2 linked regions of the Homo sapiens genome follow. The protein of the gene in region 2 purifies or fractionates together with the protein of the main gene of each other region. This does not show direct contact. Each region holds a gene or a part of one and is shown on either strand. Other genes may lie near its edges. The genes, in order: IFT140 and TTC21A.

Evidence for each region.
Region 1: the proteins of TTC21A (region 2) and IFT140 purify together in Homo sapiens (co-immunoprecipitation; one study listed by IntAct). This does not show direct contact.

Annotation. Positions count from the first base shown.
Region 1 is NC_000016.10:1,601,972-1,605,782, forward strand, and holds part of IFT140 (intraflagellar transport protein 140 homolog), read right to left. Parts: intron 2,512-3,811; exon of another isoform or gene 2,444-2,511; intron 621-2,443; coding exon 399-620; intron 1-398. UniProt on the Homo sapiens protein: Component of the IFT complex A (IFT-A), a complex required for retrograde ciliary transport and entry into cilia of G protein-coupled receptors (GPCRs).
Region 2 is NC_000003.12:39,134,962-39,138,772, reverse strand, and holds part of TTC21A (tetratricopeptide repeat protein 21A), read right to left. Parts: intron 3,681-3,811; coding exon 3,599-3,680; intron 2,444-3,598; coding exon of another isoform or gene 2,417-2,443; coding exon 2,266-2,416; intron 1,875-2,265; coding exon 1,713-1,874; intron 1,594-1,712; coding exon of another isoform or gene 1,579-1,593; coding exon 1,386-1,578; intron 1,288-1,385; coding exon 1,063-1,287; intron 568-1,062; exon of another isoform or gene 507-567; coding exon 386-506; intron 218-385; coding exon 150-217; coding exon of another isoform or gene 93-149; exon of another isoform or gene 63-92; coding exon 1-62. UniProt on the Homo sapiens protein: Intraflagellar transport (IFT)-associated protein required for spermatogenesis. Required for sperm flagellar formation and intraflagellar transport.

The sequences.
Region 1 (3,811 bases), on a different chromosome or scaffold from region 2:
CCACCCACAGGGGTCCAGCTGAATCCTCCCCCAAAATTGTGACAACAGAAAATGTGACTGGACACTGCCCCATGTCCCCTGGGGGGCAGAACCAACCCTGGTTAAGAAGCCCTGAGCTAGACAAACAGGCCTAGGGAAAAGTGACAGTATCTGGGCACGTATCTTTACGAATGCAGTTTCCCAGCAAAGTTCATTTATAAAGGTGCAGACACACCTTTGCCACAGAGTGGCAAATTTTCAAGCCTTGCTTCCAATATAAAACAAAATCTACAATTGCATCTGACAAGATCAACTGAATTTGGCAACAGCACGGTTCCCATATTTTGATCTTTCATACTCTCGAGCATGGTCAGAAAGGGTCAAGGTCTGAAAACAGCGTCTTGCGCGTGTTGACTCACCCTGTCCCCAGACAGCAGGCAGTTTCCACTGGGGCTCCAACGGAGCACGGTGATGTCGGCTGTGTGTGTCAGGGGCATCGTGTGCTGCTCCTTGTCCTGCTTGTTAAACACCGTCACTTCTCCAGTCTCCCAGCCCACAGCCAGCACCAGCCGCGTCGGGTGCCAGCACAGGGAAGCAACCCGGAACGGCCTCTCGACGTGTGTATCTGGCACGCACTCCCCCTGCATTGGATGAGAGGCAAATTCCCACAGTTCAGAGAGGGACAGCTACTTTTAAGAACTTCTGTCTAGGCCGGGCACGGCGGCTCACTCCTGTAATTACAGCACTTTGGGAGGCTGAGGTGGGTGGATCACAAAGTCAGGAGTTCGAGACCAGCTGGGCCAATTTGGTGAAACTCCGTCTCTACTAAAAATACAAAAATTAGCCAGGTGTGATGGCGGGCGTCTGTAGTCCCAGCTACTCGGGAGGCTAAGGCAGGAGAATTGCTTGAACCCAGGAGGCAGAGGTTGCAGCGAGCCCAGATCGCACCACTGCACTCCAGCCTGGGCGACAGAGCAAGACTCTGTCTCCAAAAACAAACAAACAAACAAACAAAACTTCTGTGTGATCTGTGGACTCCACATTGGCGACAAGGTACAAAAGCTATTAAGGCAATGGGGCAATGTTCTCAGTAGACTCTTTAATTTTTCATAAAAACGCACCAACCTTGCCCCTAGCTGAGCTACCAAAGCAGAAGGTAACTTGTGCTCAGCTGGCAACCCCGACCAGCTTCTCATGGAGTGCCACCTTGTCATGATGTGCCACCTCCTCCCCATGGCTGCTGGATGGCTGGCACGCATTTTAGTGCGTGGCTGGGTTCCCTAAAACCTTATCTACAAAAACCACCAGCGAGCCAGCAGGTGAGGTTTGTGGCCCCAGGGATCTCAAAGTGTTGTCCAGAGACCCCAGGACCCTTTCAGGGATCTGAAAGGTGAAAATTATTTTCAGAATAATAGTGACAGGTTAGTGCCATTCATACTCTCCTTCTTTCACGCGTCTACAGTGGAGCTTTTCAAAGGCTGTGTGATGTGGTGATGTCACTAATGACAGCTTGTGAGATATGTGCTGCGTTTCCTCTTTTTTTTTTTCTGAGATGGATTCTCACTCTGTAGCCCAGGCTGGAGTGCTGCAGTGGCATGATCTGAGCTCACCGCAACCTCCGCCTCCAAGGTTCAAGCGATTCTCCTGCCTCAGCCTCCCAAGTAGCTGAGACTACAGGCGCGCCACCAAGCCCAGCTAATTTTTGTATTTTTAGTAGAGACAGTGTTTCATCATATTGGCCAGGCTGGTCTCAAACTCCTGACTTCATGATCTGCCCGCCTCGGCCTCCCAAAGTGCAGGGATTACAGGCGTGAGCCACCGTGCCCGGCCATGTGCTGTGTTTTCTAAAATTTTCTAAAGCAGCAGCTTTGGGGAAGATATAAGTGCGTTTTCAGAGATTAACTTGGTTTGCCCCCAGTTGTTCCACTGGGCTTAGGAGCCATCTTCTGTGATCTCATCATTGTCCAATAGATCACTATTTTGAAATCCTGAAGTTTTCCTTGTGCCAACTGGAAACACAGAAATATGCTATTGACTAGTTTTATAATAGTATGCTTTAGATCTTCTAAATTTAAAAATTTTACCTAAAATTGCTATAACTTTGGAATTTAATAATATTTATTTTAAAAAATATCCCATTTACCATATATGTTATAGGCTCCTGCAAGGGAGAATCTACCCAAAAAAATGGGCAAAAGTGGGGTTGGTGCTGGGGCTGGACTGAGCCCTAAGTCTGGCACGGCCTTCGCAAAGCTGCCAGTATATGGAGGAGCCTGCTGGCAACAGGGGAGCCGCTGACCAGCGCTGCATCGCGCTGCAAGGGCGTGTGTGTGTGTGTGTGTGTGTGTGTGTGTGTGTGTGTGTGTGGAGGGGGGAGCAGTTCCTAAGGGGCCACTTAGCCACTTTCACCTGAAGGATTAATGCATTAATTACAAAAATGGATGAAGGAGTGTCTTCTTTGCAGGTGGCACAGCATGTGCAGGGCTGGAAGGCCGAGGAAGGCTGTGCAAGGCTGTGTCAGCATCAAGGAAGGTGAGCCTGATGTGACAGGTGACAGAGCCAGACCTGGGAGGCGCTAGGGGCCACATCAGGGACTCCATGTTCACCCAAAGAGCAGCACAGGGCCGGGGAGGTGGGAGCAGGGAGTGATTCCATCTGTGATGCCAAGACAGGCCAGGCCTGGTTGCCGTGTAAAGTAGAGGAGGCCTGTGAGGGCACAGCTGCCACAGTAGGAAGCTGTACTGGTGTCCAGGAGAGGGGGATGGGAACCTGGAGGAGGGAAGGGCGGTTGGAAGGGCAAGCAGCAGCAGACTCGCCAGAGGTTCCGGGGGAGAAACTGGGAGGATCTAGTGATGGATTACAAGGTAGGGGAGTGGGAAATGTCAACAGTCATGCCCAGGTTCTTGTTCTAGAAACCAGGATAAAGGGGGTGACTTTCATTGAGATGGGAGGTGCCCATCTCAGTGAGCAGGAGATATGAGGCAGGGGAAGGGTGGGGGACAATTTCAGTTCAGTTTTGTACAGTCTGAGGTCTCCTTGAAACACCCTAGAGATGTCAGGAAGGCAGCTGGGTCCCTAAGCTTACAGCTCAGAGGGAACTTCTAGGCAGGAGATGTATGTCTGCAAGCCACTGGGGATGCTCAGATCACAGGAGAAGGAAGAAATGGAGAGGAGCCCTGACCAAGCTCTGCAGAAGGCCATGGTGCTCACAAGCTGGAAATGGAGGAAGAGCTGGCAAAGCCATGGAGGCCGGGCAGGGAACGCCCTACCCCTGCGCTCTCGGGCATGTTTCCCAGAGGACTTCACAGGAGTGTGGTACAGACAAGGACCCCAAAACACTCAGGGGGTGACACCTAGAAGCAACTGATGACTGTCGCTGCTTGGGTGAAGTTGTGGTGGCAATAGGGAGCCTGCAGAGGGCTGAAGAGTGAGTAGAGGAGGAAACCTCATTTTCTTATTTATTTATATTTTTTGAGATGGAGTCTCACTCTGTTGCCCAGGCTGGAGTGCAGTGGCGTGATCTCGGCTCACAGCAAGCTCTGCCTCCTGGGTTCATGCCATTCTCCTGCCTCAGCCTCCTGAGTAGCTGGGACTACAGGTGCCCGCCACCACGCCCGGCTAATTCTTGTATTTTTAGTGGAGACGGGGTTTCACCGTGTTAGCCAGGATGGTCTTGATCTCCTGACCTCATGATCCACCCACCCCGGCCTCCCAAAGTGTTGGGATTACAGGCGTGAGCCACCGCACCTGGCACCTCATTTTCTTTATGGAATATGAGGTGCACTGGGCACCGAGAGGGTGATTATCGAAGTCTGAGGAGCTTGGGGAACGT
Region 2 (3,811 bases):
CTTCGGGCCTTTTCCAAAATTTCCTCCCTGATCTTGGGGTAGTCGGGGTGCTCCCTGAGGACCTGGAACAGAGAGAGAATGGGTGTGCAGTATCATGCAGGTTTCCCCACCACTACACCAGGCCCTCCCCACCAAGGCTGCTGGCTTACATCGTTGCAGATTTCAATGGCCTCCACAAATTTCTTGTCCTTCAGGTAGTTGAAAGCAAGTTTGAAGCCTACCGGGGACATGGAGAGCAAAGATGGTGGCACCCTGGTGACCTGAGAACCCCTCTGGTTCTCATAACAGCCAGGGTACAGGCCTTGAGTTCTGGGGTCATGGTGGGGGCCCTCCTGCCCACCTCCCTCCCACGTCCATTCACGTGCACCCTGGCTGGTTGCCTTACCAATGGCAGGGTTGGCGTGATGACTGTACTTCCAGGCCAGTTTGTAGTTGGTGACTGCATCCTTGTAGGACTGCTCCTTCTCCATGATGAAGCCCATGTACTCATAGGCCTTGTAGCAGGACTGCAGGGAAAGCCAGTTAGAGCCTCTGCAGAGCGGAAGCCCCAACTGGTTCCCTGGGCCAGGGTGGGACTGGGACCAGAACCAGAAGCAGGCAAGGGACAGAAGTGAGCTGCCATAAACCAAACTGCCAAGGGACCCCAGGGGTACCCCAACCTTTGCAAGAAGCCAACTGTGTGCCCTCCTCTCAGCTACCCCAGACACTGGCGTAACCCCTTTCCCTGTAGCCCTCCTGTTCCGCCACTCCCATTCCTGGCCTGCTCTGACCTGCAAAAGTCCCTCCAGCTTGGAACCCATGAAGCTTTCCCATCTCTTTCTGTCCTTTAGTGTTCCCTCCTCTGGACATAACACGACCCCTGTGCACCTCCTCTCACCTGGTCCATCGCCCTTGATCCTCATTCCTATTCTGGTCTGTCGCCCATGTGCCCCTCTCAGCCTGCCTCTTCCCGACTAGTTCTTATTCCATATGGCCTCTACCTGCAAAGCCTGCTTCACCTTCCTGGAATGCCTAGAATCCTTTCCGCCATCCCGCAGCCCTAGTGTGTGTGTGGCTCCTTGCCTTGTTGTATTGCACACAGCGCCGCAGCAGTTCTAAGGCGAGGTCGAACTTGCTGCCCTGGCAGTAAATGTCAGCCAGCAGGAGCCAGCTCTTCTCCAGGTCCTCAGCCTCACTCAGCACCCAGGGGGTCTTGGCCAGGCGCTTCAACTGCATACGCGCCTTGGGGATCTGCTTCAGGAACACGTAGGCTTGTGCCAAGGCCAGCAGGGCAGGGACGCTGTCCTTCTACACACCAGGTAGGAAGTGGACGTCAGCACGTGTTGGCCGCCTGGTCTTCTCGGCCCTGCCACCTGCCCATGCCCGCCAGTCCCCACCAGCCACACCTCAGCCTGCGCTATCTGGATGAAGCTGCCCAGCGCAGCCTCCATGTTAGCCTTCTCCCTGGTGGCCAGCCGGCAGAGGCCCTGCAGCAGCCGCAGCTGGGTCTGGCTGGAGTCTGAATGTGGGTAAAACTCACGCAGCAGTTTCTCGGCGGTGCTCACACCCTGCTGCTCCAACTCCTTCTTCTCCATGTAGCTGCAGGTGTTAGACCTGGGTATCAGACACAGGCCGGTGGCCTGCCCGTGTGGCCCTCACCTGGCTTCAACCCAGAGGTTGCAGGCTTTCTGTAACTTCCCCAGGGTTCCGCCCCTGCCTCCATGGGCCCTTACTTGCTCTCAGCTCCCTGGTTCTCAAAAGCCTCTCCGCCCACAACCTCGTTGTCTGGATTCAGACAGATCTGCACCATGTGGTAGATGGCGCTCTGGCCCCAAGTGCTGTCCTTGCGTGCCTTGTTCAGGAACTTTAAGGCTTCGTTGGGCTGCCCTATGTGCCTGTGGTGGAGAAAACACCAAGAATCAGTGAGGGAAACTGAGGCCCAGACAGGGCAGGGATATACAAGGACCACTTTGTGAGTCTGCACAAAGCAGAGGCTGGATCTCTGGTTTCCCAGCTCCCCTGGAGGAGATGCGGGCGTCGGACCTGTGTGTTGGATGCAGGCTGGTGGCCTGCCCAAGTGGCCCTCACCTGGCCTCCATCCAGAGGCTGCAGGCTCTCCCTGACTTCCACAGGGTTCCACCCCTGCCCCCATGGGCCCTCACTTGCTGGGTCCGGGTGTCCTGGAGGCAGAATTTCTGCTCCTTTTGTGCAGAGCAAGGGCCTAGCCTATCTGCCAGTAGGGCTTCCTGCACACAGCTGCCCCTCAACACACCACACCCAACTCACCAGCAGTAGATACCTCTGCAGTAATTGAACCCTGGTTCCAAAGGCACCCGGCTAGACACCTTCTTGGCCAATTCAAAGAAGGCAGGAATGTCTTCAAGTTTTCCACTTCTTCTTAGCAGATCGATTAATTTATGCAATACCAAAAAATTGTCTAAAATAAGAGACAGAAATCTCCAGGCTGAAATGCCCAGTAGCTGTTATCAGATGAGGGTGCTGGGGCCCTAGGAGAAGCCAAGAGATACTGCCCATCTGGGCTGAGCAGGGACATTCCAACAGCTCCAGAGTCTCCACTGGTCTCCAGGGTTGAGTAAAGAATAATACTAATGCTTAAAAATAGTAAAGAATAGCAGCTAACACTTATATAGCACTTATATTGTACCTGGTATTAAGTGCTTTACCTATATATTAACTGCAAGATTAGGTAGGTACCTAATCTTTTTTTTTTTTTTTGAGACGGAGTCTCGCCCTGTCACCCAGGCTGGAGTGCAGTGGCGTGATCTCGGCTCACTGCAAGCTCTGCCTCCTGGGTTCATGCCATTTTCCTGCCTCAGCCCACCCCCGAGTAGCTGGGACTACAGGCACCCGCCACCACGCCCGGCCAATTTTTTTGTATTTTTAGTAGAGACAGGGTTTCACCGTGTAGCCAGGATGGTTTCGATCCCCTGACCTTGTGATCTGCCCGCCTCGGGTTCCCAAAGTGCTAGGATTACAGGTGTGAGCCACCATGCCCGGCCTAGGTAGGTACTCTTATTGTGTCTGTTTTACAGATGAGGACACTGAGACATGGAGAAATAATTTGCTGAAAGTTGCACAACCAGTAAGTGGTAGACCAGGACTCAGACCCAGGCAGCCTGGCCCCAGCACCCATACTCCTAACCGTGGTGACCTCCTGGGCCTATGGGCACACTGCCATGGGCCTGCCAGGGCTCCAACCTGAGCCTCAGGTCTGGCCCCTTTCCCCAGCAATAAGGGGTGGTTTTACGCTGCAGTGAATGGGAATGAAGCTATACAACGGGGGAGAATTTCTAGTCCCTACAAGTGGCTGTGACCTCAAAAGGGGACTGTGTCAAGCCCCATTGGCTGTGATTTGGGGACAGACATGCTGTCCTGGGTCCAGTGCCAAGTCCTTGAGACCAGGAACTGGCCCCTTGGACTCGGGAAGGGCCGGCACGTTCCACTGGGTCTTTATCAGTTTCCTGCTTCTCTGGAACAATCAGGGAGGAAGGGGCTTCCTCTGCCCAGTCAGGAAGGAGGGAGAGGTCCCACCCTTCTCTGGGAGAGCGGCCCTTGCTCAGTGGGAACTGGTACAGGCAGTCTCCATGGGCAGAATTACCTGGCGCTTTCTCCAAGACTTGGTGGTAAAGATTGATGGCCGCTTCATGTTTCTGTTTTCTAAACATCAGGTCAGCCATCAACTATCAGAAAACACACAAAGCTCCAGATTTCCCAACAGTGGCAGCTTGCATGGGTGTAGGGGGAGGCGGGGGGTATGGGGGTGATGGTGGTAAGAAGGGAAGGTAGAAAAGGACTTGCAAGGCAGCCTCCC